Regions from separate parts of the Homo sapiens genome. Here region 2 is linked to region 1. Evidence: fine-mapped expression QTL. A gene starts in region 1. The other region holds a variant in brackets. All regions are shown on one strand. Distances are between the middles of the regions.

Region 1 (15,920 bases):
AAAGTGCTGGGATTACAGGTGTGCACCACTGCACCAGGCCCATTTCCCATTTTTATATTGTGTTTGGACCCACCCCACTGGCCTGGTTTTAAATTGATCATCTGCAAAGGACCTCTCTCCAAATAAGCTCCCACTCTGAGGTATTCAGGAATTACACCTCAAAGTATTTATTTTGAGAAACATAATTCAACTCATAATAGCCCATTATCTGACCCTTAAAGATTCATGTCCTTCTTATATGAAAAATATATTTACCACATCCCAACATCTCCAAAAGCCTGAATGCAGTCCAGCGTGAAGCCTAAGTCCAAAACCTCATCTAAATATCTCATCAAATATGAGTGCAACTCAGGCTTTGATTCATCCTTCAGCAAAATTCCCTTTCAGCTGTGGATCTATGAGACTAGACTGCATATCTACTTTTAAAATACAATGATGGAACAGGCATCGAATAGACATTTCCATTCCATAAGGGGGAGATCAGAAGAGAAAAAAAAAAGGATTACTAATCCCAAACAAGTCCCAAACCTATCAGGGAAAATTCCCTTCAATTCCAGACCTCAGAAGAATCTTCTCTGGCTAGATTCTCTGCCCTCTGGTCCTCCAACCCTTTCATTGTCCCCTCACCAACTCTTGGGGACTTGGTGTGGGAGTCAAGACTCATCAGCGCCAAGCTGTGGGCTTTCAATTTGGTGGGGAGTGCAGAGGAGATTGGGACACACAGAGACTGGAGCAAAACTCTAGCCTGAACACACGGAGGCTGGGCCCTGGCCAGAGCTGCCCTGGAAGGAGAGCGAGCAGTGGCCTCTCCCACAGTCGGGTGGTGCAAACACTCCGGATATGTCCCTGAAGCAGAGGCATGTGATGGAAGGAAGTGGAACAGAGCCACCCTGGAATGACCTTGTCAGAGCAGGCCTTGTTGTAAGTGACTATATCAAGGGCGTCAAGCAAGGGTGTTCACACCTAGGAAGGGCACCCAAAATGGAACCTCAAGGATCATCTGGAGACGCAATTCCCCACAACAGAGAAGGTGGCCCTGCTGCGATGGGTTCATTCTTATAATAACCCATCAAGGAGGCCCAGCAGCTGGAATCCTGGCATGTCAACGGGCATTCAGCAGCCAAGTGAGAAGCACACAGCATCGGCTACATGAAGATAGACTTTGCCCCTTTCTCTTCTGAGCCCTTCCCATCTCCTGGTTCCCCAGCAGCCAGAAGGCAGGACGGGGAGGCAGGAGTGTAAAACACCAGAACTGCCACCTTGTCTCTAATTCACAGTCAGCCCAAGCTAGACCTGAGGGGGGATCTCTAGGCTGGTGGGAAGAGAATCACAGAGCTGTGTCCTGATCACACTGCACTTCATCCAGCCTGTCAAGTGCACCATTTACACACCCAAGCACAGATCCAAATGGTACTCGGGACCAAAGGAAAATCATGTTAATTTTTATTGTAACATGGACTCTCCGCTGCTGTGGGAGAAAAAAATAATGAGGAATCTGATACTCACCCAGGTTAAAAGAGCATTACTGAGACTGAAGTAGGCTGTGGATATCTGCAGGCAACTTGGATTGCTTTATGTGCCTTTCTTACATTCCACATTTCTATGGGAAATATGTGCTGCCTTCAAATGGAGGAAGAGAAAACAATAAATACCACAAAGTACCAAAGTCACAACTAAATAACTATACTTTAACATATAATAAACCCACAGACTTAAGAGAATGAAACCAAAATAATTTTCCCTAGTTTACGATTCTGTAGCAGTGACATTTTTCGTCCTGGAAAAGCTACGTAAGGTCCAGCGCAGAAGTGACCTTGGAAGTCACCTAGTCCAAAATGTTCGTGCTAGAGGTGAGGATTTTAAGGGCCAAGGTGATCAACCCCTGTTCCTAAGATCACGTGGCTGATTTATGTTAGGATGGGGGCAGGAGACAGTCTCCCTGGCTCAGACCCCTCTTCCCTCACAGGTGTGTCTCTCTAAGGCACTACTCACCTCTTAGTAGAAGCCTGGGTCCTCTTGCCACCCATCCTCCCCTCCTCCCCCTTGTCTGCAAACGCCCTTCGATTTTGCACAGCAGCTAAAAGCTACCCTAATGATGACCACAAATTGGTAGAATTTTTAGTGAATGCCCTCTCCAAGGAAAGGTCACTGTATTTCTTGTTCATGTTATGATTACTTAGAATTTAATGGTTACCTGTGCTTCACACATCTCTGCCTATACCTTACTTTATTTGGAATAACAAAAGTAATGTAAGTGTTTTCAAAGCTGACAGACAGAGACAGAGTACAGAAAGAGCTATTGATGCATCGAGGGCCAGAAAGAAAAACAACAGCAGACACCTAAGTTCAAGAGTCAATTACAGCAAAATGTAGTTGATTACAGGGCTCATGGGTCGCGGGGAGTGGGTAAAGCAACCTGGCCACACAGCTTGGTGATTTAGAAAGAGTCCTGGCTAGGGCTTTCCCTCAGCCTATCAAGGTGGAGGGGAGACGCTGCACCTGCCAAAGCCGATGATTCCCTGTTCCCGGTGAGGACTATCCACAGACACCCTCCTCCTGCACTTGTGCTTATCAAATCCCAGAAATCTACCGGACACGTGTTTGCCTGAGTTACCAGCTCTCCCCATCCCCTCTTGTCTGTATCATCGAAAACAATGACACATTCATAGCTATTCACATGGATGTTTTCTCTAGCTAAGAAGTGATTAAGACAAACAAATCAGGATAATAGCCATGTTTTGAAGAAACCAGATTTGGCAAATTTTAAAATTGTGCTTTCAAAATTGACTATTCATTTCTTTTTATATTACACTTCCAAACACACACATACACACTTAACAATCACACATTTGGAACCATACATGTCTTCTTGGGTGTATAAGACAAAGATACTGATAGAAAGGGAGCAATGTCTCCAGGAGACACTGGCCCCTCTCCCTTCATGTGTAGACTGCAACTCTAGGACTTGCTCTCCAGCACTGGTGCAGGCTCCGCCTCTGTCTTTGATTTAGATGGGAGAGGGCAGGAGCCATCTCCCCACCCCAGCCCCTAAAGCCCCCCACTCTCTTTTTTGGAGCTAAGAGAGCAGGCCACACTGGACGATAGTGCTGCTTGCTCAACAAAAAAAATAACTGTTTTGGGGGAAATTATTTAACTTCATTTAAAAATTCCCTGAGTTTTCTAGTTAAATGTCTTTTTTAGAGCATATTCCTCCCACTAAAAAATGGTTGAATAAATATATTTTTAATAAAAATAAGGTTTGTTTAAACTGTAAAAGATAGGAAGTTCTAGCCAATGCCTGGTTAACAGGAACAGTGTGAACACGTGAAACAGTGTGATCTGAAACCACAGACATCCCTCTTGGTGTTAGCTCCAATGTTGCATGTGTATATTCTGTGTGTGTACATCTGTGTGTGTGTGTGTGTGTTCATTTGTGTGCTGGGTCATGATGTAAAAATCCATTTCATATGTCAGATCATAGTCAAAATAAGTTTGAAGCCCCTGCCCTGTGCTATCCTGCCCTGCTGATACTCTGTGTTTTCCTTAATTGTGACAAAGATGAAACTACAGAGGCAAAACGAGAAGAGTCATGCCTTGCTTGCATTGCAAAGGGACGTGGATTTTGTCCTAATGGTGAAGGGCATCCTGAGCATGACGCTGGCAAGTCCCATGGTCCCTGTTGCATGTTGGAATGAATAGTCTGTCTGCAGAGTGGAAACAGGGACATCAGTTTGGTGTCCATTACTAAAAAATGTGTAAAGCCCAGAGGAAAACTGAAACATACACACTGATGGTCAAAACATGCAGGAGGAAGTGAACTCAGGAGTGACTCGGGTAGGAGAATTGACTGAGCTTACTGGGGTATGTGAGCAAATATGAAAATCCCTTCATAACTTACACAATAGTTACGGTATGCCAGGAACCCTTTCAGGCACAGAAGAAGAAATATTAAAATAATAAAGACTACATTTGTAAACGTTCTACTGTGCGCAGCACTGTTCTAAGCACTTCATATGTATTTAATCATTATAGCAATTCTAACAAATCAAGCAGGACCTGGACTGTGTCTCTGCACACATGAGTGTGTGTGTGTGTGTGCGCGTGCACGCACATGATGGAATGGTTACTGGTATCCTATTTTATAGACTGGAAAACGAAGGCACAGGATAAGTTAAATAACTTGTGTAAAAGACACTATCAAGAAAATGAGAAAACAAGCCACAGACTAGGGGAAGTTATTTGCAAAAGACATGTCTGATAAAAGACTGTTACCCAAAATATACAAAGAAGTCTTAAAGCTTCACAATAAGCACATGAAAAACCTGATTTAAAAAAAATGGGCCAAAAACCTGAAGAGATATATCACTAAAGAAGATATACTGAGGGCAAGTAAATATTTGGAAAGACAGTCCATCTCATATGCCTAGGGAAATGTAAATTACAACAAAAATGAGATAGCACTTCAGACCGAGTAGAATGGCTACAATCTAAAATAGTGACAACAGCAAATTCTGACGAAGATGTAGAATAGTAGAAACTCTCATTCGTTGCTGTTGGGAATGCAAAATGGGACAGCCACTTTGGAAGACAGTTTGAAAGTTTCTTATGAAATTATACAACCTCTTACCACACGATAGAGCAGTATCACTCTTTGATATTTACCCAAGCAAGTTGAACACTTACATCTACACACAAAGCTGCACAAGGATGCTTGTAACAGATTTTATTCATCATTGCCAAAACATGGAAGCAGCCATGATGTCCTTCTGTAGGAGGATGGATAAACTGTGGTATACTCAGACAATGGAATGTTATGTATTGCCAAAAAGAAATGAGCTATGAAGTCATAAAAAGACATGGAAGAACATAAAATGCATATTGTTAAGTTAAGGAAGCCAATCTGAAAAAGCTACATACTGTATGATTCCATATATTTGACATTCTGGAAAAGGCAAAACTATTGCCATAGTAAAATAATCAGTTGTTGCCAAGGGCTTGGAGGGGTGAAGGATGAATAGGTGGGTGGAGGCCAGATGATTAGGGCCATGAAAATAATCTGCATGACACTATAATGATGGATACCTGCCATTATACATTTATCCAAATCCACAGAATGTACAACACCAAGAGTGAGCCTAATGTGGACTACGCATGTTGGATGATTATGATGTGTCATTGTGGATGCACTGATCGTAACACATGTACCACCGAGTGGGGGTGGTTGTGTATGTGTGGGGATAGACACTATGTGGAAGGCTCTGCATTTTCCATTCATGTTTGCTGTGAACCTCAAACTGCTCTAGAAAATAAAGTCTATTTAAAAAAATAGAATACATATCTCATATGAATAATTTCAAAAGACGTGAATTTTGGAGGCAGTACGTTTGTGGAATTATCTGGGCATTGATAACTAAAAGTCAAGCGCTCCATGATGAGAGCCACGCGGGAAAAAGAAAAGATAGTGGAACCAGAATTTTCAATCCAGGGCAGAACGCTTCTGAGCCGTAACTCTGAACACCTAAGCCAGTGTTTTTCAAACTTCAGTGGTGCCTCATTAATAGTGGGTTTTAACTAGCATTTACAGAAATGGAATGGAATGGAATAGAATAAAAAAGAGTATGAATTGCACATAAAAGAGAGATACTGATTTTTGACGCTTTGGTTTCTGCTTTATATGTGTATAGCATGAGTACTGGGTCATGATGTAAAAAGGTGTTTTATAAAATAGGTCATGATCAAAATAAATTTCCAAGCCGCTGCCCTGTGCTGTACTGCCCAACTGCTCTGGCTTTCATGGATCACACTCTGCAGTGGTCAATTCAGAGAATAAATGAGTGAAAAGCTTAACAACATTATTTTAGCTATTGAAACATGTTCTGATGAGCCAAACAGGGTAACAGCATCCACTGGTTCATTGTGTGTGTGTGTGTGTGTGTGTGTGTGTGTGTTTTCAAGGTAGGATTGTTCGATCTATACTCATTACCAGGTCTGAGGAACACTTAAGAAGGAATAAGAAGGAATGTCCAGTAGACAGAATATAACCAGATCCAAATTCAAGATTTAAGGCTGAAGCTGAGATAAATAGATACAGCTAACAATAAGGAGTGAACTCATTTCAGGAGAATAGGTAAAGGGAGAAAAAAGGAAAGGATCCTACCTTATAACTTCATTTCAGAGATGGGGAATGCATGTGGTTGCAATACTTCTAAAAATGGTGGTCAATCCATCAGATAAGTCAAATATTTACCCAGTGATATTTTTAGCATATTATTTGCTTAGAAAAATGCTTCTTTCCTAAGAAAAAGGGACACTTCTTACTCTGGCTGTGTTATAATTTTGAGAGATATCGTGAAATATCTCATCTCTTTATGTAATAGTCCTTTTACGTGACATTTTCTTTGTAAAGATGGAATTATGAAAAGGTAAAAATCACCATAAAAATAGTCATTTGTGCCTCTAATCAGATGTGACTCTTAAGATTCTGAACATTATGTATCCAACAATGTTTATGGTTAACAAACAAACTACATATCTTGCTTATAAATAAGTATATAGACAGACACACACAAAAATGAGTGAATATTGGCTCTAAAAAGATAACCAATGATCCTAATTATGATATACATTCAGTGGCTTAAAAAACAGTAGACCTATTTCCATTTTACTAAATTAGGTTTTCAAGAGGTGCATTATTAAAGGCTATATTTTCTATTTGGTAGCCTAAAATTTCTCTAAATAGTTGGTTACTGTTAATGGCGCAAACATCTGTTTTCAGAAGTAACTATTATTCCTGTAAGAAGCATGCGTACTCTCAAACATGTTCCCATATTTTTTTTTAAATGCTATACTTATTTAAAAATTTTCCCTTAGGGAGCAAAAATAAAGTATACAGATTATCATTTTTTTCATTCCTCACTCGACTACGTCTAACAACATTAAGTATGTGGGGTGAGTCCATGCTACAAAATAGCAATCTAGTTAATCTCTTGTGAAAATTGCCTGGCCTCTCCTACATGACAGGGGGGATTCAGCTGTAGCACCCGCCTGTGCCGCCTTCAGTGCCTGCTTTAGCAATCCCAATCTTTGCTTTATCTTCTCCAACAAACGGCTCATGTTGCCTTGAACAGAAATTATATTTCTTGTTCGAAAGAGCAGATTTTAACTTTTATTTCCTCTAAAAAGATCGCAGCGCTATGAGAATAAAATCTATTATTTTTCACTCCTACTATATTCAGATCATTCTCATTTTAAAGCTAAGCATGATTTTTGCTATAGCGTAAAGATAGCAAATCAATATGGAATTTGCCAAAGATTTTCAAATGCATTCTCTTTCCGAGGCCCAAATGGTAGGTGCCCTCACACTTTGCAAGCAAATAATGAAGCTGAGCTGAAATATTTCAATCCTTTTCTCTAGAGTGTGGATTTGTCCTGCAGTTGTGGGGAGGTGGGTGTAGGTTCACCTTGTGCTCCACCCCACCCTCCCTCCGGTGGTGTTCCCAATAGCTGAAAAACGTGTGAGCTGTAAGAGAAAAACAAGACCTAGTGCTCGCCGTGCGGGAGTGAAGATGAGTTTTCACACACTGCCTTGGATTTTATACATCTCCAGACTTTAAGTCACCCAGTATGAATGACTGTAAATTCTTTTGGTTCCTATGGCCCTGGAAAGAATAAATTGCCAGCATTATCAAGATTTAAGTTGGTCTGAATATTCCAAGTATTCGATGCAGTGTTTTTCTTTAGGATGAGTCGGGGAAGTGGGGGACGGGGGCGGGAATGGCTTATCGCAATGGCGGTAATTTTTTCAAATCATGATCTGTGTAAAACACGGTATTATTTTATGATATTAGAATCCTCAGAGAAGATCCAATACTTAAGAAATGTAGTATTAATTGCAGGAGGGCACCTGAAAGGAAGCAGATTCGGATAATTTTCCCAGTCCTACACGGCTGATTTCTCTGGTGAAGGGATCCGGGCAGTGTCTTAGGAACTGCTCAAAGTTCCCAGATACCCAGTGCTGGGGGGTGTGGAGAAGGCGAGGGTGGCGACAGACCATACCTATGAAGCGGTGATTTTCTTTAATTGCCCCCAGAATATCCGTAGAGGTAGTAGGGACTCAATAAAGAAACACAAAGGAGACGAACACGGCACGATCGCCGGGGTCCGCGGCTGCTCTGCGAGGCCCAGCGCGCCCCAGGTCGCGGCTCCCCGGCCGCCAGCGCACCTTTCCATCTCCAGGGAAAATATTTAGACGGGAAACTCGAGTGCACCTTATTTTCTCTTTGGTTTATGAGTGACCCAGAAGGCTTCTAGCTCACAATCGCACGATTTCAGGACGAGGCTGCCGGAGAAGCGCTGGCGACCGAGGATGGGGGAAGGACAAAGAGGAAGAGGAGGCCTGGGAAGGAGAAAGGAGCGGCGGAGGGGCGGGGAGAGGACGGGGCGGGGAGAGGAGGGGCGGGGAGCAGAGGGAGAAGGGAAGGAGGGCGCCGGGCCCCTCGCAGGGACGCCGGGCGGGGCGCGGGCTTGCTGGAGCCTGCGGGACCCAGAGCCCGCTCCGGAGCCAGCCCTGGGAGTGGCCAGCTTGAACCCGAGGGCCCCGCAGACCGTTACTCCGGCCCCCGCCCGGGGCGGGGCGCGCGGGGGCGCGGCGCAGCCCAACCCGCACAGCCGCGTCCCCAAACACCACCGAGGAGGGAAAACAGACGGAGAAAAAGGACAAAACAGAAAAATGCAAAACGGGGGAGGGAGCTCACCGCCTCTCGAGCTTTAAATTGATTTCTTTGCCTTACAAAAAGGGAGAAAGGGAAAAGGAGAGCAGAGCCCACGTGCCGGGAAGGTTGCTGTCTTCAAGCGCCACCTTCCGTCGGCCAGGGCCGCCGCGGGGCTACCGGGCGGGCTCGGGGCGGCGACCCGGGGGAGCGGCCGAGCCCCGCGAGGGGCTCGCCGGGGAGCAGCTGCGCCCACCCCGGGGCAGGCCGGGCGCGGCTGACCGCGAGCCGGGCGGAGGCCGCCGTCTCAGGCTGGGCGCGTGCCCGAGTGTGTGCACCCGGGGAGTGAGCGCGCGCCGTCCGCTGTCGCCGTCGGGCCTCCCGGGGACTGGGCACAAAGGCGCGCGGGGCCTCTCCCGGGACCCGGTCCTCGGTTAGCGCCGGCGCCCGAACCATCCCGGTTCGCCCCGGGCCGCCCGCTCCCCGTGGTGCCGCGCGCCGCTTCCGAGCATCCCGGGAACAGGCGCATCTGTGCACACACGCGGATTTTTTAAAAATAACATATTTCTAGACATGCCTCCTCTCCCCCCACCCCCATCTTTGCAAAGCAGCCCGGAGGGCGGGGTGGAGGGGCGGGGCCTCCGAGTTAATAAAGGAAGATGGGCGGAGCCGGCCCCCAGCCATTGGCTAGCTGGGGGAGTGATGTCACCCATATGACACCCTGATAACTAGTTGAGAGAGAGACCTCAACTTTTTGCAGAAGGAGCGCGCGCGCCTGGGAGAGCTCGGGGTCCGGCGCTTGCGGTAGGAGCCACGAGCCGGAGAGAGGGGTCCCGGGCTGCCTCGACCGCCGTCGCCACCGCCTCTCCTGTCGCGACCGCAGCTCCCACCGCGCCGGCGGCCGTCGTCGCCGAAGCCACCACAGCCGCTGTGTGCAGCCTGGAAGGGGGGGCGGGGGGGAGGGGGGGAGCCGCGAAAGCGGGGTGCCGAGGACTTTGCAACTTGCCCAGGAAGGTGGAGGGGTGGGAGGGGGAGGGGGACCTCCGCACGAGACCCAGCGGCCCGGGTTGGAGCGTCCAGCCCTGCAGCGGATCATGGTGCAGCAGGCGGAGAGCTTGGAAGCGGAGAGCAACCTGCCCCGGGAGGCGCTGGACACGGAGGAGGGCGAATTCATGGCTTGCAGCCCGGTGGCCCTGGACGAGAGCGACCCAGACTGGTGCAAGACGGCGTCGGGCCACATCAAGCGGCCGATGAACGCGTTCATGGTATGGTCCAAGATCGAACGCAGGAAGATCATGGAGCAGTCTCCGGACATGCACAACGCCGAGATCTCCAAGAGGCTGGGCAAGCGCTGGAAAATGCTGAAGGACAGCGAGAAGATCCCGTTCATCCGGGAGGCGGAGCGGCTGCGGCTCAAGCACATGGCCGACTACCCCGACTACAAGTACCGGCCCCGGAAAAAGCCCAAAATGGACCCCTCGGCCAAGCCCAGCGCCAGCCAGAGCCCAGAGAAGAGCGCGGCCGGCGGCGGCGGCGGGAGCGCGGGCGGAGGCGCGGGCGGTGCCAAGACCTCCAAGGGCTCCAGCAAGAAATGCGGCAAGCTCAAGGCCCCCGCGGCCGCGGGCGCCAAGGCGGGCGCGGGCAAGGCGGCCCAGTCCGGGGACTACGGGGGCGCGGGCGACGACTACGTGCTGGGCAGCCTGCGCGTGAGCGGCTCGGGCGGCGGCGGCGCGGGCAAGACGGTCAAGTGCGTGTTTCTGGATGAGGACGACGACGACGACGACGACGACGACGAGCTGCAGCTGCAGATCAAACAGGAGCCGGACGAGGAGGACGAGGAACCACCGCACCAGCAGCTCCTGCAGCCGCCGGGGCAGCAGCCGTCGCAGCTGCTGAGACGCTACAACGTCGCCAAAGTGCCCGCCAGCCCTACGCTGAGCAGCTCGGCGGAGTCCCCCGAGGGAGCGAGCCTCTACGACGAGGTGCGGGCCGGCGCGACCTCGGGCGCCGGGGGCGGCAGCCGCCTCTACTACAGCTTCAAGAACATCACCAAGCAGCACCCGCCGCCGCTCGCGCAGCCCGCGCTGTCGCCCGCGTCCTCGCGCTCGGTGTCCACCTCCTCGTCCAGCAGCAGCGGCAGCAGCAGCGGCAGCAGCGGCGAGGACGCCGACGACCTGATGTTCGACCTGAGCTTGAATTTCTCTCAAAGCGCGCACAGCGCCAGCGAGCAGCAGCTGGGGGGCGGCGCGGCGGCCGGGAACCTGTCCCTGTCGCTGGTGGATAAGGATTTGGATTCGTTCAGCGAGGGCAGCCTGGGCTCCCACTTCGAGTTCCCCGACTACTGCACGCCGGAGCTGAGCGAGATGATCGCGGGGGACTGGCTGGAGGCGAACTTCTCCGACCTGGTGTTCACATATTGAAAGGCGCCCGCTGCTCGCTCTTTCTCTCGGAGGGTGCAGAGCTGGGTTCCTTGGGAGGAAGTTGTAGTGGTGATGATGATGATGATAATGATGATGATGATGGTGGTGTTGATGGTGGCGGTGGTAGGGTGGAGGGGAGAGAAGAAGATGCTGATGATATTGATAAGATGTCGTGACGCAAAGAAATTGGAAAACATGATGAAAATTTTGGTGGAGTTAAAGTGAAATGAGTAGTTTTTAAACATTTTTCCTGTCCTTTTTTTGTCCCCCCTCCCTTCCTTTATCGTGTCTCAAGGTAGTTGCATACCTAGTCTGGAGTTGTGATTATTTTCCCAAAAAATGTGTTTTTGTAATTACTATTTCTTTTTCCTGAAATTCGTGATTGCAACAAAGGCAGAGGGGGCGGGGCGGGGGAGGGGAGGTAGGACCCGCTCCGGAAGGCGCTGTTTGAAGCTTGTCGGTCTTTGAAGTCTGGAAGACGTCTGCAGAGGACCCTTTTGGCAGCACAACTGTTACTCTAGGGAGTTGGTGGAGATATTTTTTTTTCTTAAGAGAACTTAAAGAACTGGTGATTTTTTTTTAACAAAAAAAGGGACCATTGCAACTTTTGTTAATTTAATTTTTTTTTTTTTTTTTTTTTTTTTTTTTTTTGGAGGGAGAAAACTGATGTCTTCTATGCATCCGATTCTTAACAAAACTGCAGGGAGCTTGAAAAAATGCAGACTGTACAAACGCTTACAAAAAAAAAAACTGTGAACTGACTTAAGATCAGAGTTTACTTTTCAGATCAAATTGTTTATGGTTTTACAAATGTGATTTCTACTTGCCAACTTTTTTTTTGTAACTTGTTCCCTTATACCTCCTTGATTGAATACCAGACAGCCTAGACCTCAGTACAAAAGGTATTGAAACATTTTTGATACATAACAGACCTCAGTCTTTTTTAAAAATTAATATATTTTCAGGCGTATTTTTGTACAGTGAAAAGGGAACATTCTTGCTGTGTTTTTTCAGTAAGACTTTCAGGCACTTCTTCCCTTTTGATTTCTTTTTTTTCCTCTGTTTTTTAGCATGCAAGTATGTTGGTACGTTATGTCCTGGTTTAAAAAGGATTAAAATTTTAAAATAATCCTTGCATCTAAAGGCCTTGTGGTTTAAAAAAAAAAAGCAAACTTTTTTTTGTACAGCTATAGTAGAGATTTGTTCAATATTTGTAGGTAAAGATTTATTGAAAATGGTGATATAGACCTCAGAGCTGTTATCTTAGTTTAAAGATTGTATATGTACTGTACTATAGTAGGACTTTATGTATCTCATACGCTGTGATGTGGATGGGGCCCCAGATGGAAGGTTTGAAACTGGATTCTCGATTTTTAGCAAAAAAGAAAAAAAAAAGGCACATAGTTTAAAAAGTTTCTCATTTTGTGCAATATAATCTAAATAAAGTACAGACCATCTGCATATTTTGTAGCAAATGGTGGCAAAGCAGACTCAATGCACTGTCGACATCATTGCCTGTTTTTTTTTTTTTTTTTTTGTGCTGGAAGTCTGTATCTTGACAATTTTAATAAATCAGCTGGAACTGATAGAAACTCGCATCGCCAATAGTCTCTATGGAAGTCAAACTGGAGGTCCTGTTGTCGCAGAGCATTCGGTGGTGAGGCTGTTGTGTGCGCGGATGAGGGGAGGTGGCAGGAGAGAATTCTACATTTAGGGGGTTAGGCTGAAAAGTGTTCAATTAGCAGGCTGATTTCTTTTTCCTCTTCCGCTAGTTGTGAAAGACAGGGGAAGGGTGTTCTTTCTCTCTGCCCTCCCTTTCCATCTCCAGCTCCCCATTTCCTTTCTCACCTCCTCCTCCACTCCCTGCCTCTTCTCCCCACCCATCCTGGCGGGCGGGCTGCGCGGAGGCTCGGGAGCTGGCCGGGGAGGGGCGGATGGAGGGGCCTGGGTTGCCAGCTCCCTTGGTCGGGGTCCTGCTCGCTGGGGCTTGTGTGTTCTCTGCGGCGGGCCGCGTCCCCGCTGAGCCTCGCGGTGACAGCCGCCTTTGGCAGCGAGCGCTCGGGGCACTTCTATCCCCGCCTCTCAAAGGGTGGGGACAGCCGTTTCCAGATTTGAATTTTTTCTGTTCTTTATTTTTAACGCTGCATCTTCGCGTGTGCTCAGAGGTGGTTGTTGGCGGAGAACGCCGCCGCAGTGTTTGACCTCTAGCGGTGAAGGGGGAAGGGGAAGAGGAAAGGAGAGAAGTGGTCGGTGTCTGTTTCCTTCTGTCCCCCGGGGCCGTGGAGCTGTCGGAGGGAAGGAGGACGGTGCGGGGCCGCAGGGGGCGCGGGGCGCGGCGGGACCCAGGCTACGAGCGGGAGGGAGGCGGGAGTCGGGGGAAGACGCGGCAGGCCGGCCGAGGGCACCCCGAGGAACATGGCATGGCCTCTGTGCGATCCGAGTCGCGGTCTCCGGGGTGCCTGGGAGGGCCGAACCACTGGTGAGGGCGTGGGGAGCAGGGGGTGGCAGAGGGCACCCGGGCGGTAGTCCGGGACGCGCAAGGCAGAGCCCTGACGCTCCGGGTCCCCGTGCCTGGCTCTTCTTGCCTCGCCACCGCGTGCTCCTGGGCGCGCCCCGCCGCGGGCCCTTGAGGCGCGCGGAGACACCAGCGCTGGCTTCCCGGGCCCGCGGGCCGGGGAGGGAAGCCTCGGGGCTGCGGGGTGAGAGGAAGAAAGCAAACCCGGGGAGCAGGCGGCTGCCGCACCCGCGCACCCCGGGCCCTCACCACGCCCTCCCCGCGCGCCGGCTCAGGGGCTGCCCCGGAATCAGCTCCCCGGGGCCGCCGCAACGAAGGTGGATCCGCATCTTGATTGTTCTCCGGGAGCCTCCTGGGGGCTCCGGCGGCGGCGCGGGCGCGACCCATCCCGCTGGCGCTCCCCGCTCGCTGAACCCCGTTTGCCTGTCCACACCCCCTCGCTCCCCACCATTTTTCCTGACCGGCCTGTGTCCCCGAGCCCTCGCGGCAGGCCCGAGCAGGCGATCGCGGCCGGGCACGCGCGCCCCGGGCTCCCGCCCCCCTTCCGAGCATCCGCCGCCTCTTTTCTGCTGGGTCTGGGAGGAGGGAGGCTGGGAGGCCGCTCGGGGCCCAGCGTGCCAGCCCCGGAGTTCAGCCTCCCGAGCTGCGGCGCCCGCAGCGGAGGAGGTTTTCAGTGGCTGATTGAAACTCACTGCAAAATCACCACGACTCTTTCACCTACTGAGATGATTGACCGAGGTTTGGCCTTCCATTTTTACTGAGATTTGGCGAGACCGAATGGAAGCGTCCGCACAGTAACTGCAGCTGCTAGGCCAGAGGGGCCCCGGCGCCCTTCCCGCCTCCCCTCCCGCTTGCTTTTGCCTTACTCGATCTTACCACCACCCCTCCCCCGGCCCCCCGACTGAGAACTCGGGCCTCTCACCCGCCCCCCAGCCTCCCGCTCTGGGCGAGCCTCCTCCCCAGCCCCCACCCCTGGGATGCGAAGCCAGCAAGCTTTTGCTGCAGATGGACAGGTTTCTTTTCTGTGGCTTTTTCCTTTCGATAAACCATCAGATTTCAGTAGTACATTTGGGAAAAGAAGGGGCTGATGGCGTTAACCAGGTTCTCAATATAGAACTGGATTTCTGGAGTTGTTTACCTTACCCCACACCCCCTCAACATGTAGACTAATGCAGCCATTGGTGGTACATTTATTTTAGCCACGGATAATTGAACCAGCGGTTTACAATTGACACGTGCTCCGTGCTGGTGATTTTATGTGGCAGCCCTCTGCTGCAGTTCCGAAACTTGTTGGCAACGTAAACCCATTGATAGGCTGATCTATGTATTTTGAAAGCCTGAAAACTTGGCATGTCTTTTCTGTTTTAATCATAGATGAATCTTGGACATTTTCTGTGGTGAGGTGGAAACTTTAAGTAAATTAGTAAAGTAATAATTTGGCTTCAGAATGGGAAGAGATAGTCAAGATTTTTTTTTTTTAAAGCCATGTGGCCTAACTTGATACAAAAATAAAAGTAATTGTTTGGCAATCTAAATTTAAAACCTGTTAGAACTCAGGACAGGCGCTTCAATGCGCTTTTTAACAATATTTAAGGCTGTTTTGATGAGTGCGTTGTGAGAATCATCTTAATGAATTCTTTATTGAGTGTCTAAAACATAGTATAATACACATGGTATTCTTGCCACTGGATAGTCTTCAATAAAAGTTTAATTGATTTTTTTTTGTTGGTCTCTTAAGTAAGTCTTATTTTTAACTAAGCATTGACAGAATATCTTAAAATGGTAACCTGGGGGTGGCGGGTGGGTGCTGTGTGCACGGCAGCCTAGCCAGTGGGGATCCTGCTGTTTATTATAAGTAGTTCACAGACTCTGATGGCATTTTGGTAAGCTTTCCATCTTTAAGAAATTGAACCAGCATTCTCTTATTAATTCTTTAAACTGTGGAAGTAATTTCCAGTTCTTACACTCTGATACGCATCCCTTTTATTTAAAAAAAAAAAAAATGCTAATAAAAGGCAGTGTACTTAAACTGTGCTTTGCAAATATTGTGTATGTTATGAATGACTACAGACACTGGGCAAATTATTTGTAGAATGATTATCCTTTAGCTAGAGAAAGAAATCATTACAACTCTTTTGGGCAGAGATGTTTCTTTTTAATGTTAATCAAGGGGAAGTGATTTAAATATGCATAAATGTAGCAGTCAGGGTGATTTAGTTGCTTTTTTCATGAAAGAAAAAGACTCAAAAGACAAGACTTATTTTTCTCTTCTGGGAC
Region 2 (15,920 bases), 600 kb before region 1:
TTCCTGAATTCAGCACATTTTACTTATGTGGCCCTGGACACTTTTAAGCTCTGTGTGTCTCTGTTTTCTCATCATTAAATGAAAGTAATAATAGTACTTGCCTCACAAAGTTGTGAGGATCAAACAAGATGCTACATGAAGGAGTCCCTAGTACAAGTATTAGCTATTTTTATTGTACCAATTTTGAAGTTTCTGATGCTAAGCAAATTTAGCTGACTTGCCCCAAATTATATACATTTATTTGAAGTAGACATGAGAGAACTGATGAGTTTCAGCTGTGAACAATCATATCAATCACCAGAATGATTATCGTATTTTCAAATCTCTTGAGACAGTTTTTATTTAGATTTTTATATTTGGAAGACACTTTGTTGAGATTGAATGATAACTATACTTGCAATATTGCCAGTGTCTGAAAAAAAAATCCACATAAGAGGAAGGCATCAGGTCCAGACCTGCCACAATAATTTCAGAACGTTGGAGACTATATTGGAGACAGAATTTCCAGGACTTAAGATTGTTTATTGAGAACCAAGTCAAGGCTCTGCAAAACAAGCAGTCTCCAGAACTGGAGGCAGCATGGTGGGACAGGAAAAGAAATAGACGTGAATTCAACTTGAGCATTTTCTATGCTTGAATTGGGCACCTTACACAGCATCCCTTTATCTTCCTGTCCACCAACAATAGGCGACAGTACCCTCTACTCATCTTTATAGCCTTGTTTTGAAGAATAAAGTCATGATGAAAGCACTGTGTAGACCCTAGAGTAACACACACTGTAAAGAATGGAGAACCCAGGCGTGGAACTGAACCATAAGCTATGTCGAAGCATGGAGCACAGGGAAGGAACAGAATCTGAGAGTATCTCCACGCAGATCCAGGGTCCATTTCTGACCCCATGCACCTGAGTTAAGGCAGTGGTAAGACACTTACTATGTCATATTCAGGATTCTGGGGGAGAGTTAGCAAGAAGCCAGGGGAGACAAGAAAGACAAACAGCCCAACTGAGGAGGCCCTGTCTGGCCCCTTCATGAGGAGGACAATGGGGTGGCCTTTTGGCAGGGTCTTCAGGGGAAGTCACCAGACCTTAGTCAACAGGCAGTAGGGGAGTGATTGGAGGCTTGGAGGTTTGAAAGTTCATATAAAAATAGTGCTTGGAATAGCCAATCTGTAATAATATAACCATTCATGCCAGTCACAAAAACACTCAGTAAATGATAATTATTAGTACCATTAATACAAAACTATAATGTGGTAAAGCTCCCAGTGGAATGAACAGTGTGCTTTAACACAGAAAGGAGAGTGATAATAATAGGTTTGTGGAAGGGGAACTGGGAAAACTTTATAAGAAGGATGACTTTTCATCAGAACCTTAAAATACATTTAGGGCTTCCTATATTACATATATATATATACACACACACACACACACACACACACACACATATATATATATACACACACATATATATATATGGATTAAGAGGTTAAGTGTGCTTTAGACCAAAAAAGCCCATAAAGAAGAAAACATGCTTTGGCTTAAGATGTATTGTGTCCAAGGAGACAGCAATGTGTCTGTATTAGTCTGTTCTCAGATTGCTATAAGGAACTACCCGAGACTGGGTAATTTATAACAAAAGGAGATTTAATTGACTCCAGTTTCACAGGCTGTATAGAAAGCATGGCTGGAAGGCTTCAGGAAACTTACAATCATGGCGGAAGGCCACAACTGGAAAGGGAAGCAAGCACATCTTTACATGGCAACAGGAGAGAGAGAAAGAATGAGGGAGAGAGAGGTAGCACGAAGGCATGAAGGGGGAAGTACTACACACTTTTAAACAACCAGATCTCATGAGAACTCTATCATGAGGCAGCACTAGGGGGATGGTGTTAAACCATTAGAAACCACCCCCATGATCCAATCACCTCCCACCAGACCCCACCTCCAACACTGGGGGATTAAAATTCAACGTGAGATTTAGGTGGTGACACAGAGCCAAACCACATCAGTGTCCAAGATAAACTTTCCATTGAACTCCACATGAATGAATATTTGGCTGGAGGAAGAATTGGCAATAAATAGCATTAATTAATTAACTAATTTTTGTCAGCTTTATTGAGGTATGATTGACAAATAAAAATTTTATATACTTAAGATGTAAAACGTGTTTTGATATAAGTATACCTTGTGCAATGATTTTCAGAGTCAAACTAATTAATATATTTGTCACCTCAGAGTTACCTTTATTTGGTAAGAAAAAGATCTGAAAAATTTGAGTATACAATACTTTAACTATGGTTACATGTCAATAGCATTTATTTAACAAGTAAAAATGCTTGCAGGTCATCTCCTAAGTGCCAACCACTGTTTCATACTTTAGAGTTACATAAGCAACAAACCATGAACAGAACTGAGGTGATACTAGAAGGTGGACTGATATCATCCTTCAACAAAAGGATGCTGCCAAGTCTTCCATTGCGGAAAGCAGATCCTAAACGCCAGTCATATCTCCTAGAATAAGATTAAAGAGCCTAGTAGACCTGGTTATCTAAACCACCAAATGGGCTGACTCTGATTGGACTCTGAGGCTACACCAAGGAGCAATCCATCCCCAGATTAATCTCCAGAAGGCTACTCAAAAGCTACAAAAAAGATCCAGTCAGTGTTCAGCTACAGATACAGATTAAATGACACCAAAGCTTATCCCTGCATGAGTTACCTTGTAAAAATACCAACATTTAACTTTACCAGTATTGAAAAACTCTATGGGTGGTTAGTGATAGATTTGAGAAAATCTAAAGCAGAGTCCTGTGTGAAAACAGTGAAGAGTTTTCTGTAAAGAGATTTTTTTTTTTAAGCCAATGTACAAACATCATCAGCATTTAAATTAGACTTCGAGGACTAAAGGAGAGGTCTGAATTAATGTGGTTATTCTTGGCGCTCAATGCCTGTGCCCAGCATCTCGGGGGCTACCAGTTTTGAAGACTACATTCCAGATCTAATGTCTTGGTGTTTGCATTTAGTGATTTTGAACCTCTGTGTAGTGGAGGCACTGAAAGAGAGAACAAAAGAATGAAAAATAAAAATGTAAATGAGCTTATTTAACACACAGCCAAAATTCTTTGATGTTAGGTAATTGCTCAATATACCAAGATAAGCAAGAAATTATCAATTCATCATTTTGAAGTGTCTACTAGTCTGTGTATATTGACTATTTTTGAAATTATGTACATCTACAAAATACATCTATATCTATAAACTGGTTTATAAGCATGATTAACTTTTCTCATATATATTGTAACAAATGTTACTAGGATTTAAAAAACAGCATAATCTAGAAATGATGACACTGACTGAGGCTCTGTCATGTAGCTCACCTGTAATTACCTGTGATGGAAAAGGGCCCAGGGCCTGGCTGTATACAATCAAGAGCCACTGATGATGAATTGATGCGTTTCTATTTGTGTGTGTCTGTGCCTGATGGCTGACTCTAACTGACATGAAAGAAAGACCCTTCCTCTCTTAGGTTAAAGCATTCATGTTTTGAAGAGAAAGGCCAGCTTTTAGGCCTTTGCATCTTGGAGAAAGAGATTATAAAAATGAGACTCCCTCCCTGTATGCTGCAGTTCAAAAAGACCCGGCATTGAATAACTTAATCTTTTGCAGATCTCCTTTTATAGCCTGACCTGACAGGTGCCCAGAATGCCTTGATACTACAAAGCAAATTAAAATTAAACACACAGGGAGTAAAAAGCTTTTGCTGTCAAAGCAGATACCAGGAGAAAGATGTCTGTTTTACAGCACTGTGCTAGGCCGCCATAGACCAGACCAACCTGGGCCCTGCAGGCTGGAAGACACTGAGAGGAACCCAGAAGCCAGCACGAGCAGAATTTGGATTGAGGTATATTCCAATTTCGGGGAAATAAGACAATGATATAAGCCGGGCATGGATGGAACTGGTACCTAAATATTTTTGCTAGAGGGGGCCCTGTGTTCTGGGCAGGGTCCAGATTGGGTGACCCACACACCTGGGACAGTCAAGAGACGTCACACAAGCGCTGAGCTCTAGTCTGAATGTTCTGGGATGCAGATCTACATCCTAGGGCTAGGAAGGCCCATCTGAATCACCTTGGAGACTTTTTAAAATAGAAGCTTCTTCTTCCTCCTTCTTAAACTCCTTCATCCAGGAATCATAAACTATTATATTTCCTTCCCCCAGGAATCATAAACTAGTAAACCTGAGAGTCTGTCCATATTTTTTACATATTCCCACATAACAATCATTATTAATGATTCCTCACTCTTGTCTCACCCCAGTTCAGTCATTCTCAATCCTGGCTGCACACTGGAATTGCCAGGTAAACTTGGACACTTTACTGATGTCTAGTTCTCCCTGCTGAGGGTTGGTTTTTATTGGTTTGAAGCAGAGCCCAGGTGTTAGTAAAATCTCCCTTATGAATATTGCGTGCAATCCATATTGAAAACTGATGCATGAGTATCTTCAATAATGTGCAGACCAAAGGGAAGATTGCCCTCCTTTTCTAAAGGCCCCAGTGACACAGAATCTTCTTCGTCATTATGAAGTCAATTTCAATTTGGAGGGTCCAGTAGCAGAAAAAAAATTTTTTTGAAACAAACCAGAATCTGCTTCATGGCACCTAATTGTCATGGTCCCGATTCTTCACATGGATTAAATCGGCCCATGGGCCGTTAGAACATATCTCCGCTTTAGCTGATGTCTCCTTGGTAGGCTGGCCGCACTTTCTTCATAGTTCTAGGGCAGTAAGCAAGGCTGGCAGGAGATCTTATTCAATCAATACACACTTATTTGGAGCCTATTAGCTCTCAGGTGTACCAGGCTTTAGGAAAACAGGCCAGACATGCCAGCACAGTCTCACCAGTCTAGGGTTGAAAACACATCCAAGTGGAGGCAGCTCGTAAGTGCAGACATCCGTAGTCAGCCTGGGCTCCAGTACCAGCTATGCCTTAATCAGTCTGTCACTCCAGGCGAGCTATTTCCCTGAGCTTCAGCTCCTCCAGCTATAAAGTGGTGGTACTAACACAAATATTTGTGGGGTATTATTATGTATCAGATAATAGAAATTCAAAAAAGGTATAATATGATATCCAATTTAGGACAAAATATGCATGTAACCCACAATGCACAATGATATGTATCATAGGAAGTGATTCTAGAAGAATCGAGAAAGAGAAAGACAGCATGATTTTCATGGGCTTCACCCCTGGGCACATCACATCAAGAAAACTGGTAATCAGGTTGGCCAATGCTGAGAATGTAATACCCATTGACTCCTTGCGTAGCACTAACTCAGTGAGCTAGACGAGATAATGTGCATGCACTTTGTGGGTCTACTATAGATATTAGCTGTCATCCTGTTGCCTTAATTGTCCTCAATCCAAAATGGACAAGACTGACTCCAGACCTGAGAACAAAGGTAAATCCTTCAGAGTGCCTAAAATCCTTCCAGCTGGAAGGACCAAACTACAAGACTGTACCCTGGGATACAGATACCTACAAGTCACTGCAGGAACTGGAGAAACATGACACCTGCTTTTGGAGGACGCTCCCTGTGTCTTCCCATTTTAATCTTCTAAGCAATAGGGTTCAGTCCTATTGCTTCCTCCCCAAACAGTTAGTGGCTTTTGACCACTGTAAAATAAATCCAGATAGGTACACAGGTGGGATTGATACATTTAACAATAAATATATTTGTAAATATCTATGTTTTCAGTCTTTTCAAAACATTACACAATTTTCTACTTCCTTGCACTAGGTAATCAATCTTCCTTATTGGAAATACTTTCCTCTAACTGTTGCTGATCGCTCCTATCTTTCCATTACAATGATGCTTCTGAACCTGGGCTATACATTAGAATCGATTGGAGCACATTAAAAAATACTGACACCTGTGGTGAGGTATGGTCGGTGGGGTTTTTGAAAGCTGCTCATTAATTCTATTTTACATTCATATTGAGCCCCACTGCCTCACAGCTGGGATAAACCAACCTTCAGCTCTAAGCTGCAGCCTTCTCTAATCACAGCAACTGTAGTGATGGCCCCTACATCTGAATTCCAGCAGTAATTGCTTCTCAGGAACACCAATTACAGACAGCTTCACAATATAGTTATTTACAGAATGATCACTAGGTCAAATTAGGTGTGTATTCTAGATTAGATCACTTCTACCATAGCATGTAGAAATCTTAGAAAGTGAATCCCTGAGCCTTCATTTCCTCATTTATATTAAGAGCACTGTATTAGATGATTTCTAAGTGGCCTCACAGATTAAGTACATATTTTGAAAGTCAGCATCTTGTCTTCTAAACTAATTTGCAGTTCCCTGGAGGGCAGGGACCACATCCCATGCTGCTTTTGTTCCTCACAAGCAGTGGAGTGCTTCAGTTAAACTACAGATCTTATTTTTCCTGTGCCCGCTCCATCACAAGTTTCTAGAGGAAGCTCATTCTCGCCATTTATTTGGCTGTTACTAAAAAAATTACTCACCATTCTTAGCTCCCACATTATCTTTGGAACTATGTGTTATAGGCATCATTTGTTAGGCACTACAATAATCACTTTACATCCATGACACATGTTCAAATATAATTATAATTCTGAGTGGTAGATATTATGTCATCCAATGTTTATTTGTGGGTTGGTTTCCAAATTAGTCCTGTTTGCATATGTTATTTTTTCAATAAAAAGAGAGTTATGATACCTTGATGGTGTAGAGCTCCACTGACCAGATAAATTTCTGAAAACTATAAAAAAAAATTAAAGGTCCCTGGAAATGGTACTAAGTACAATTAGCACATAAAGAAACATCTATTCAAGAACATTTACAAATATCAGCAAGGAAGAACAAAGTCTGTCTTATTTTGAATGAAGATGGCTACAGCTCAGTGAGGTGGACTCTCTACTCCAGACTTCCAGTGCTGCCAAGCACTGGGGTCCCTTTCCCTGGCTCTCGGCTGGAGGCTGTCTTCCCAGAACATCAGTATTTCTCATCTCACCTCCAGCTAGTTTGTGTTGGGGATGAGACTTGGGTGACTGCAATGCCCACTCAAAGCATGGCAGGCTGATGACACCAGCTTCCTCATAACCCTGACCCAACTAATGAGGTGGTGATCCTAGGCCTGCAGTCATAAACTGAGAGGACCTCAGCTGGCTGCTTCACTAGCCCACCCAGCACCACCTACTAGAGTGTGGTGTCACTCAAAGAGAGACTTGTCATTGTCCCCACCCAGGCTCCAGAGTCCTGGTTAAGAGATATGCCTGGGGGAGAAACAGATTTAAAACAGCTCCTGATCCCTTCCCAAAGGCATTGACTTCATTGGCAATAAAATATGGAGAAAGTCAAGACCAAGGGCTTTCTCAAGAAGAGTGGAGTTGTGGTGAAAAATCTGAAAGGAATTTATGAGTCACATAATGGTACAGGTTAGACCATAATCCAGCTAGCTTTCAGAAGACAGATGTACACTTGACCCTTGAACAACATGGAAGTTAGAAGCCCTGACCCCCTATGCAGTTAAAAACCTGTGTATAATGTTTGGCTGCCCCCAAAACTAACTATTAATAGCTTACTGTTGACAGGAAGTCTTACTGATAACATAAACAGTTGACTAACATAGATTTTGTAGCTTATAGGTATTACACATTGTATTCTTACAATGGAGTAAGCTAGAGAAAGGAAAATATTATTAAGTAAATCATAAGAAGGAGAAAATATTTTTACTACTCATTAAGTGGAAGTGGATCATCATAAAGGTCTTCACCTTTATCGCCTTCACACTGAGTAGGCTGAGAGGAGGAGGAAAAGGAGGTGTTACACGTAGTTAGACAAGTATGAGCAGGGCAGGAGAGGGCTCTTTCCCCACCCACTAGAAATACCCGGTGATGGTTTGGTACTTATCACATTGCCTCTTTAAAA[G/T]TGATAAATTGGCAGCCGGTGCCAGGGAGAGGCCATTTTCGGAAAATCCACAAGTGCTGCACTAAAATGTTAATTGAATGCAGGCACCAGGGAGACACAGCTTCCTGAGCGGGCGCATTAAGAGACAAAACGGCAGAGTATAACCTTCTGAAGACACTCCCCTGGAAAAGGGAAGAAAGCCTCAGAGAGGCATGTGCACAACTTCGTAAACATACTGCACGTGCTCACCTCCCCAGGGTAAGGGGGGCCCTTACTGTGCATGTGGGCAGCCCACCCTAAGGGAAAAACCATGGGAAAGGGCCCAGTGTTTAAAGTCCTAGGATGAAGGTTAAACACTGCACTTGACCTCGGTGCCCCCTTGAGTCTCTTCCAAGCGTACTTTCCTTATTTTCTTTCCCATTTTAAAGCCTTTTAAAATAAACTTCCACTCCTGCTCTGAAACCTGCCTTGGTCTCTTTTGTTGCCTTATGCCCCTCAGTCAAATTTTTTCTTCTGAGGCGGCAAGAATTGAGGCTGCTGCAGACCCACGAGGATTCGCCATCAGTAACTCAGATACCTTCCATCAGTAACAGAGGCATTGGTTTTACTGGCTCATGGGTGGCAGAGGCAGAAGAAAAACCACATGTAAGTAGATGCTCATAGCTCATACCCGTGTTGTTCAAAGATCAACTGTAGATTAGAACAGCTGGGTAGAGTCCTCTTAGTGTCAGAACAAATATCAAAAACTGACTTCACAGCCTGGCCAACATGGTGAAACCTCGTCTCTACTAACAATATAAAAAAAAAAAATTAGCTGGATGTGGTGGTGTGTGCTGGTAATCCCAGCTAATCAGGAGGCTGAGGCAGAAAAATTCCTTGAGCCCAGGAGGCAGAGGTTGCAGTGAGCCAACATTGTGCCACCGCACTCCAGTCTAGGTGACAGAGTGAGACCCTGTCTCAAAAAAACAAAAAACTGGCCTCAGAAACAGATTCATCCAAGAAGTCACAATCTCTAAAGAAGAGACACAAATGGTCAATTAGCACAAGAAAATATGCTTGGCATCATTAATCATCATAGAAACGTAAGTCAAAACCATAATGAAATACAACTACACTCCCACTAGGATGGCTAGAATCAAAAAGTCAGATAAATGTTGGCAAGAATGTGGAGAAATTGGAACACTTGTGCATTGCTGGTAGAAATGTAAAATGGGGCAAAATCCTTTGGAAAACAGTCTGTCAGTTCCCATAGTAATTAATGGTTTCCATCTGATTCAGCAATTCCACTCCTAGGTATGTGCCCAACTGAAATGAAAGGATATGTCCACAAAAATGCCTGCACATGAATGTTTATGGCAGTATCATTCATAATATCCAAAAGGTAAAAATAACTCAGATGTCCATCAACAGGTGAGTGGATAAACAAAATATGAAATGACCATACAATGGAATATGACTTGGCTATAAAAAATATAGAGTACTGATACATGTTAGCATATGGATGAACCTTAAAAACGTTATACTAAATGAAAGAAGCTTGACACAAAAGACCACATGTTATATGATTCCATTTATTTGAAATGTCCAGAATAAAGATATCCATAGAGGCAGAAAGTGGATTAGTAGTTATTCAGGACTGAGGTTGGGCAGAAAGGGAATAATGATATTCCAGAATTGATGGTGGTGCTATTTGCACGTATCTGTGAATACCCTAAAATCCACTGAATTGTACAGTTTACATTGGTAAATTTTATCTTATGGGAATTGTATCTCCATAAAGCTATTTTTTTTAAAAAAAAGGAAAAACAGGTTAGAATTAAGGATATCAAAACAAAAAGGAACAGTTGCCAAGATGGTGTTAGAGGAAAAAAATTATTTGGGGTACTTCCCATTGAGGATAAAGAAAGAGCAAGCAGTATTGTCAAGGAGAGCCTTCAGAGCATAATACAGACCTGACTTGGACAAATAGAGGGTAAAGGCAGAGGATGCTTGGGTAGAAGGAGCCTCAGAGTGCAGTGAAGCTCTGAGCATTTCTAACCCAGCCCCAAAAGGAGCTCCGGCATAAAGCGTGGCTTTTAATGAGTCCTGCATGGGCAGATGTTTTCTTGTACTGCTGTCTTGCCTAGTCACCGGCTGGGAGCTGCCGGGAGAAGCATGACCTCAGTTCAAACAGTGCCGTGGATCCCAAAGGTGCAATTGCCGAAGGCCATCAGCTACTTGCACTTCTTATAGCTGATCAACAAGTTCTTGAAGGGAAATTGGAGCCTCATAAGTCCATGTCTGCCACAAGGGGCCTTAAAGTAAATTATGTTTTAGATCTTGAAATCATCATTACAGAGGAAATATCAGTGTTAGCAGTGGTGAATCTGTACAGGTCTCAGCGACTCAATTCCTGCTGCCTCATGGGAAAGAATTCATCTGAGTGGCATAAGCCAGAGCGAGAGACTGAGGCAAGTTTTAGGGTTGGAGTGAAAGTTTATTAAAAAGTTTTAGAGCAGGAACAAAAGGAAATAAAGTACACTTGGAACAGGTCCAAGCAGGCAACTTAAGAGATTCAAGTGCACCATTTAGTCCTTTGACTTGGGGTTTTATAAGTTGACATACTTTCAGGGTTTTTTGCATCTCTCCTTTGATTTTTCACTGGAGTGGGCTGCCCACAGTGAGCAGTGGCCTGCAAGCACTTAGGAGGGGCCACAAATGCAGTCTGTTTACTGGAGCTGTGCACATGGTCATTTGAGGCATTTCTTACTAGTCAAGTGTTCCTAGAGGAGGGTCATTATACCAGTTAAACTCCGCCATTTTGCCTCTTAGTGCGCATGCTCAAGCCTACTCACCCAACTCCTTGAATCTTACTGAGAAGCGGCTCATCACCAGCTTCAGGTGTTTTCTATATATTGGAAGACTACCTTTCCCTAGCTCCAGATGTGAGCAATTACTATTTTAGAGAAACAGTTTAACAACCTCATGACCATCACCTGATGGTTGCCTTATATTCCTCGGAGGGGGCCCCCTCCTGCCTTGCTCATGTCTGCCTAGCTACCCACTCTAACATCAGGACTCCGATGAAAATGACAGTAAGTCCAGTGTCGTGAGTATACTGAACTTATTTTCTAAATCCTAAATCCCAAATCAGAATAAATAGTTTGATCAATTTTTAAATTATGAAATTGTATAATTTCCGATGCATAGATTAGAAATATTTCCTCTTTGTAAAGCATTTATAGTGCCATAAAGATTACTGACCTATTGAACAGGCACAGCCTCTACAACATTCTTACTAGACTTTTAAAATTATTATTATTTTGAAACAGGGTCTCGCTCTGTCACCCAGGCTTTAGTGCAATGGTGTGACCTCAGTTCACTGCAACATCCACCTCCTGGGTTCAAGCGATTTGTGCCTCATCTCCCGAGTAGCTGGGACTACAGGTGCACACCACCATGCTGGGCCAATTTTTGTATTTTTAGTAGAGAGGGGTTTTCACCATGTTGGCCAGGCTGGTCTCAAATTTCTGGCCTCAAGTGATCCACTTGCCTTGACCTCTCAAAGTGCTGGCATTACAGGCATAAGCCACCATGCCCAGCCCTTTCTAGGCTTCTTAATGTAAAATAATTAAAAGAGACATTAATGTTTGACAAGTCTGTTACGAATGCATGGCATATGAAATAGTAAAAATCCCTTAGGCATTAGGAGTCCTCAAAATCTGATGTTCTTTATTAAGGGAGTTGATTCTAGAGGTCTTTCACTTCCAGATTATCCACTGGTCATGATGATATTTGCAATAATAATTAAGGCTTATCAATTCTAATTTTTTATAAACTGCTTGTGATGGTGATTAAGCTCCTATCTCCCAGCTCCAAACCCAATCTTTGCTCCTTTTCTTTGTGATGCTGGATTTAGGCTCTGCAGATAATTTTTCTGCTGTGACAGCTGGCTCTAAATTCAGTTTTGGCAAAAGGCTTACAAGAGCAAGGCAGGCAGAAGTAGGTAAGGACTTGTTTTTTTCTGCTTTTTCCCTGTCTTTTTCCTGGTCCTACAAACAACGTCCAAAAATCACCCCATGCTTCTGTCTGCAGCAGCAGGTAAAGACATTTAGCAGCTCTTCAGTACTCAGAGAACCAGAGAGTAATCCTGTTTTCTCATAGAGCCCAGCAACAGCCTTTCCTTGGGCGTCTTATGTTTCAGCTCCATGCACCCCCCTTGAGGCTTCTAAGTTCCAATAGTACACATCTGTCTTTCTAGTTCTGCCAGTCCTAAAGAGTAGGGCAAGCTACTTCCTGTAGTTGCTACCTTCATGTCTCAGTGTTGTTGTTTTGTTTTGTTTTTGTTTTTTTCAGCTCCCTACTAAATTTTATATAAAATCCTGCTTAGGTTCTCTCTTAAAACTATGTTGTCTCTCATATGTTATATACTTTCGACTAAAATATTTGCTATATTTTCAGTTATATCAGTTATATCTTCAGTTTCCTAATTGAACCTAATAGAGTGCTTTATGCACAAGATCTAATTTAATTTTTCCAATAACCTATCTAAATAGATATTATCCCTACTTTACAGATGAAGCAACACACCCTCAGAAATTGTTACTTGCTCAGAAACTCCTTTCTTGTTAATGAGAGACCTAGATCCAAGTGCGTCTGAGGAATTCCAAAGATCTTGCCCTTAATCACCATCATAGGGTGTTTTCTGATGTGAGCCCATGGGATTCCTGACTTCCTTTGGACACAGTTGTTTGCTTCTCTTCCAGAACTTTCTGGAATTAGTTTTCACTCTGTCATTCTGCCATGAACATAACTGTATGTTTGGCTCCATAAAACATTCTAAAATATTTCACTCACATTTTTATAGTCTTAGTATATAGACTGCAAGAAAACAAAAAGTATCCTAAATCATAGATAAGACATTTCTTAAATTCAGTAATATTGACATCTTAACTTCTCCTTAACCTTTATTTTTTTCAAGGAGTTGAGGCATTTCCATTTCATGACTGTTGGAAAGCCCATGCAGGGATGCACAGCTTTCTTCCTTGACAGCTGTGTCCTCAAAGTGTACCAACTATGTCCTCTTCAGTGACAGTAGCCATGGCTAAAATGCCAATGTGCTGCAGTCATCACAACCCTCAATTTTAAAACATTTTCATCATCTCAAAAAGCAACTCTGTAGTTTTTAGCTTTTGCTCCTCTATCCTCCTGTCTCTCACCTCATCCCCAGCTCTAAGCCATCACTAATCTGATTTCTGTCTCTATAGTTTGGCCTGTTCAGGCCATTTGATATAGATGAAATCATACAATATTTTGTGCTTCATGACAGGTTTCTCTCAGCATAATGTTTTCAAAGTTCATCCCTGTTGTGGCATATGTCAGTACTTAATTCCTTTTTATGGCTACATAATATTTCATTGTATGGGTATAACATATCTTCCTATACATTTGTTATTAGGTTGGTGCAAAAGTAATTGCAGTTTGCCATTGAAAGTAATGGCAAAATCCATGATTACTTTTGCACCAATCTAATAGTTGGTGGACATTTGGGTTGTTTCCATTTCTAGGCTATTGTGATTTGTGTATAAGCTCTTATGTGGACGTGTTTTCATTTTACTTGGGCATGAACCTCACGGTGGAACTGCTGGGTTATATGGAAATTCTCTGCTTCATCATTTGAGGGTGTGTCCGATTGTTTTCCAGAGTGGCTGCACCATTTCACATTCCCACCAGCCTTGTGCTAGTGTTACGATTTTTCCTCCTTTGCCAATACTTGTTGTTAGGTGACTTTTTGATTTTAGCCATCCTACAAGATGTAATGTAGTATTTTATTGTGATTTTGACTTGCATTTCCCTGATGACTGATGATGTCAAGCACATTGTCATGTGTTTGTTGTCCATTTGTATGTTTTACATGCTGAAGTGTCTGTTCAGGTCCTTTGCTCATGTTTTTTTTTTTTTTTTAAAAAATTAGGTTCTTTTTCTTTATTATTGAATTGTAAGAGTTCTTTATATATTCTGGAAATGAGTCTCTTGCAGATAGATGCTTTAAAAATGTTTTCTACCATTCTTCAGGTTGATGTTTTACTGTCTTAATGCTGCTTTGAAAGCCATCACTTTGAAAAAAAATATTTGATAAAATGCAACTTATATATTTATTTTGATGCTGTGCTTTTTGGTGTCATATGTAGGACTCCTTTGGTAAAATTAAGGTCGTAAAGATTTATTTAACTCTGTTTTATCATAAGAATTTTACAAATTTTGCTTTTACATTTGGGTCTGATCCATTTTCGGTCAATTTTTGTATGTGGTGTGAAGTAAATGTCCAGCTTCATCCACTTGCATGTTGCTATACAGTTGTTCCAGCACCATTTTTTGAAAAGGCTATTCTTTCCTCATTGAATAATTTTGTACTCTTATGGATTATCATTTGACCATAAATACATAGATTTTCTTCTGGGGTGCTTTCAGTTTTATTCCATTGTTCTATGTGATTGACTTTTTGTCAGTTTCACCCTAACTTAGTTACTACAGATTTGAAGTAGTTTGAAATCGTGAAATATAACTACTTCTATTTGGTTTTCCTTTGTAAAGATTGTTTTGGCTAATTTCCCTGAAATCCCATATGAGCTTTAGAATCAGCTTGTCAATTTTTATAAAGAAGTCAGCTGAGATACTGATGAGAATTTTATTGAATCTGTAGCTCAGTTTGAGGAATAATACCATCTTAACAATGTTAAGTCTTGTGATCAATGAACATAGGAAGCTTTTCTAATTATATACATAGTCCTCAATTTCTTTCAATTACATTTTATAGTTTTTAGAATATGTTTTGCCCTTTTTCCGTTATAATCCCTTTAAGTATTTCATTATTTTTGAAGCTATTGTCAATGAAATTGTTATATTAACTTAATCCCCACAGTGCTTATTGAAATTGTACAAAAACACAATTAACTTTCATTTTGATCCTGTATCCTTCAACCTTGGTGAATTCATTTATTAATTTCTTTGTGTGTGAATTCTTTCAGATTTTTTATGTGCAGAATTATGCCATCTACAAATACAAATAGTTTTACTCCTCTCTCTTCCTTGTGGATGTCTTATTTCTTGATCTTGACTAATTACCTTGACTAGAATATACAGTTTACTGCTGAATGGAAGTGTCAACAGTGGATATACTTTTATTATTCCAGATCTTAGGAAGAAATTATCCAGCCTTTAACCATTGAGTGTAATGTTACTTTCTTCATAGATACCCTTTATGTTTATCAATTGAAAACATTCTCTTCCGTGATGGTTAATATTAGGTGTCAACTTGAATGGAGTAAGGGATCCCTAGATAGCTGGTAGAGCATTATTTCTGAAATGGCATTTGTGGAAAAGATTAACATTGGAATCAGTGGACTGAGTGAGAAAAATCCGCGCTCACTTAATGTGAGTGCTCACCATCCAATCAGCTGAGGCCCAGATAAAACAAAAGGTCAGAGGAAAGCAAATTCTCTCTCTCTCTCTCTCTCTCTTAGAACTAGGCTTTTCTCCTGCCATTGGTCATTTAAACTTCAGGTCCTCTGGCCTTTGGACTCCACAGCTTGCATCAGCAGCCCTTGGGTTCTCATGTCTTTGGATTGAGAATTACACCATCAGTTTCCCTGGTTCTGAGTCCTTTGGACTTGGATTGAGCCACAATACTGGTTTCCCTGGTCCTCTAGCTTGCAGATGACCTGTCATGGGACTTCTCTGTCTCTATAATCATGAGAAATAATCTCCCTAATAAACATATTCTCATATAACTATATCTAAGGCAATACATTCAATTGGTTCTGTCTGTCTGGAGAACCCTAATATACTTTCTTTCCTAGTTTGTTGATTTTGTTTTTGTTTTTGTTTTTGACCCAGTAATCCCATTCCTAGGTATATGCTGAAAGGAGTATATACATTTTTCTACTGAAAAAACAAATGCATGTGTATGTTCAACACAGCACGATTCACAATAGCAAAGACGTGGAGTC

Direction of the effects. Positions count from the first base shown, and alleles are read on the strand shown. Sizes are in standard deviations (SD) of each study's normalised expression.
With allele T in place of G in region 2, the expression in atrial appendage of the gene that starts at base 9,465 in region 1 is higher (moderate effect, 0.56 SD a copy in GTEx).

The links. PIP is the estimated chance that this variant, and not a neighbour inherited with it, causes the effect. A credible set is the group of variants that fine-mapping cannot tell apart.
Region 2: its variant is the best candidate, but not a certain one, in a credible set for the expression of SOX11 in atrial appendage (GTEx, PIP 0.51).

The regions. Positions count from the first base shown.
Region 1 is chr2:5,682,920-5,698,839 of GRCh38, forward strand. It overlaps SOX11 (SRY-box transcription factor 11), which reads left to right and starts at 9,465. Exons shown (of 1, transcript NM_003108.4): 1 at 9,465-15,920. The coding sequence starts at 9,803. The coding sequence ends at 11,128. LINC01248 (long intergenic non-protein coding RNA 1248) reads right to left here and starts at 8,199. Exons shown (of 5, transcript NR_110580.1): 1 at 8,056-8,199; 2 at 1,507-1,620. LOC124908052 (a long non-coding RNA gene) reads right to left here and starts at 8,044. Exons shown (of 2, transcript XR_007088653.1): 1 at 6,158-8,044; 2 at 4,709-4,836. RefSeq lists silencers at 13,688-13,777, 14,068-14,237.
Region 2 is chr2:5,085,814-5,101,733 of GRCh38, forward strand. No RefSeq gene overlaps it. Among named protein-coding and RNA genes, the nearest start is that of LINC01249, 440 kb to the left of the region's middle. The variant G/T (reference allele first, on the strand shown) is at 7,954.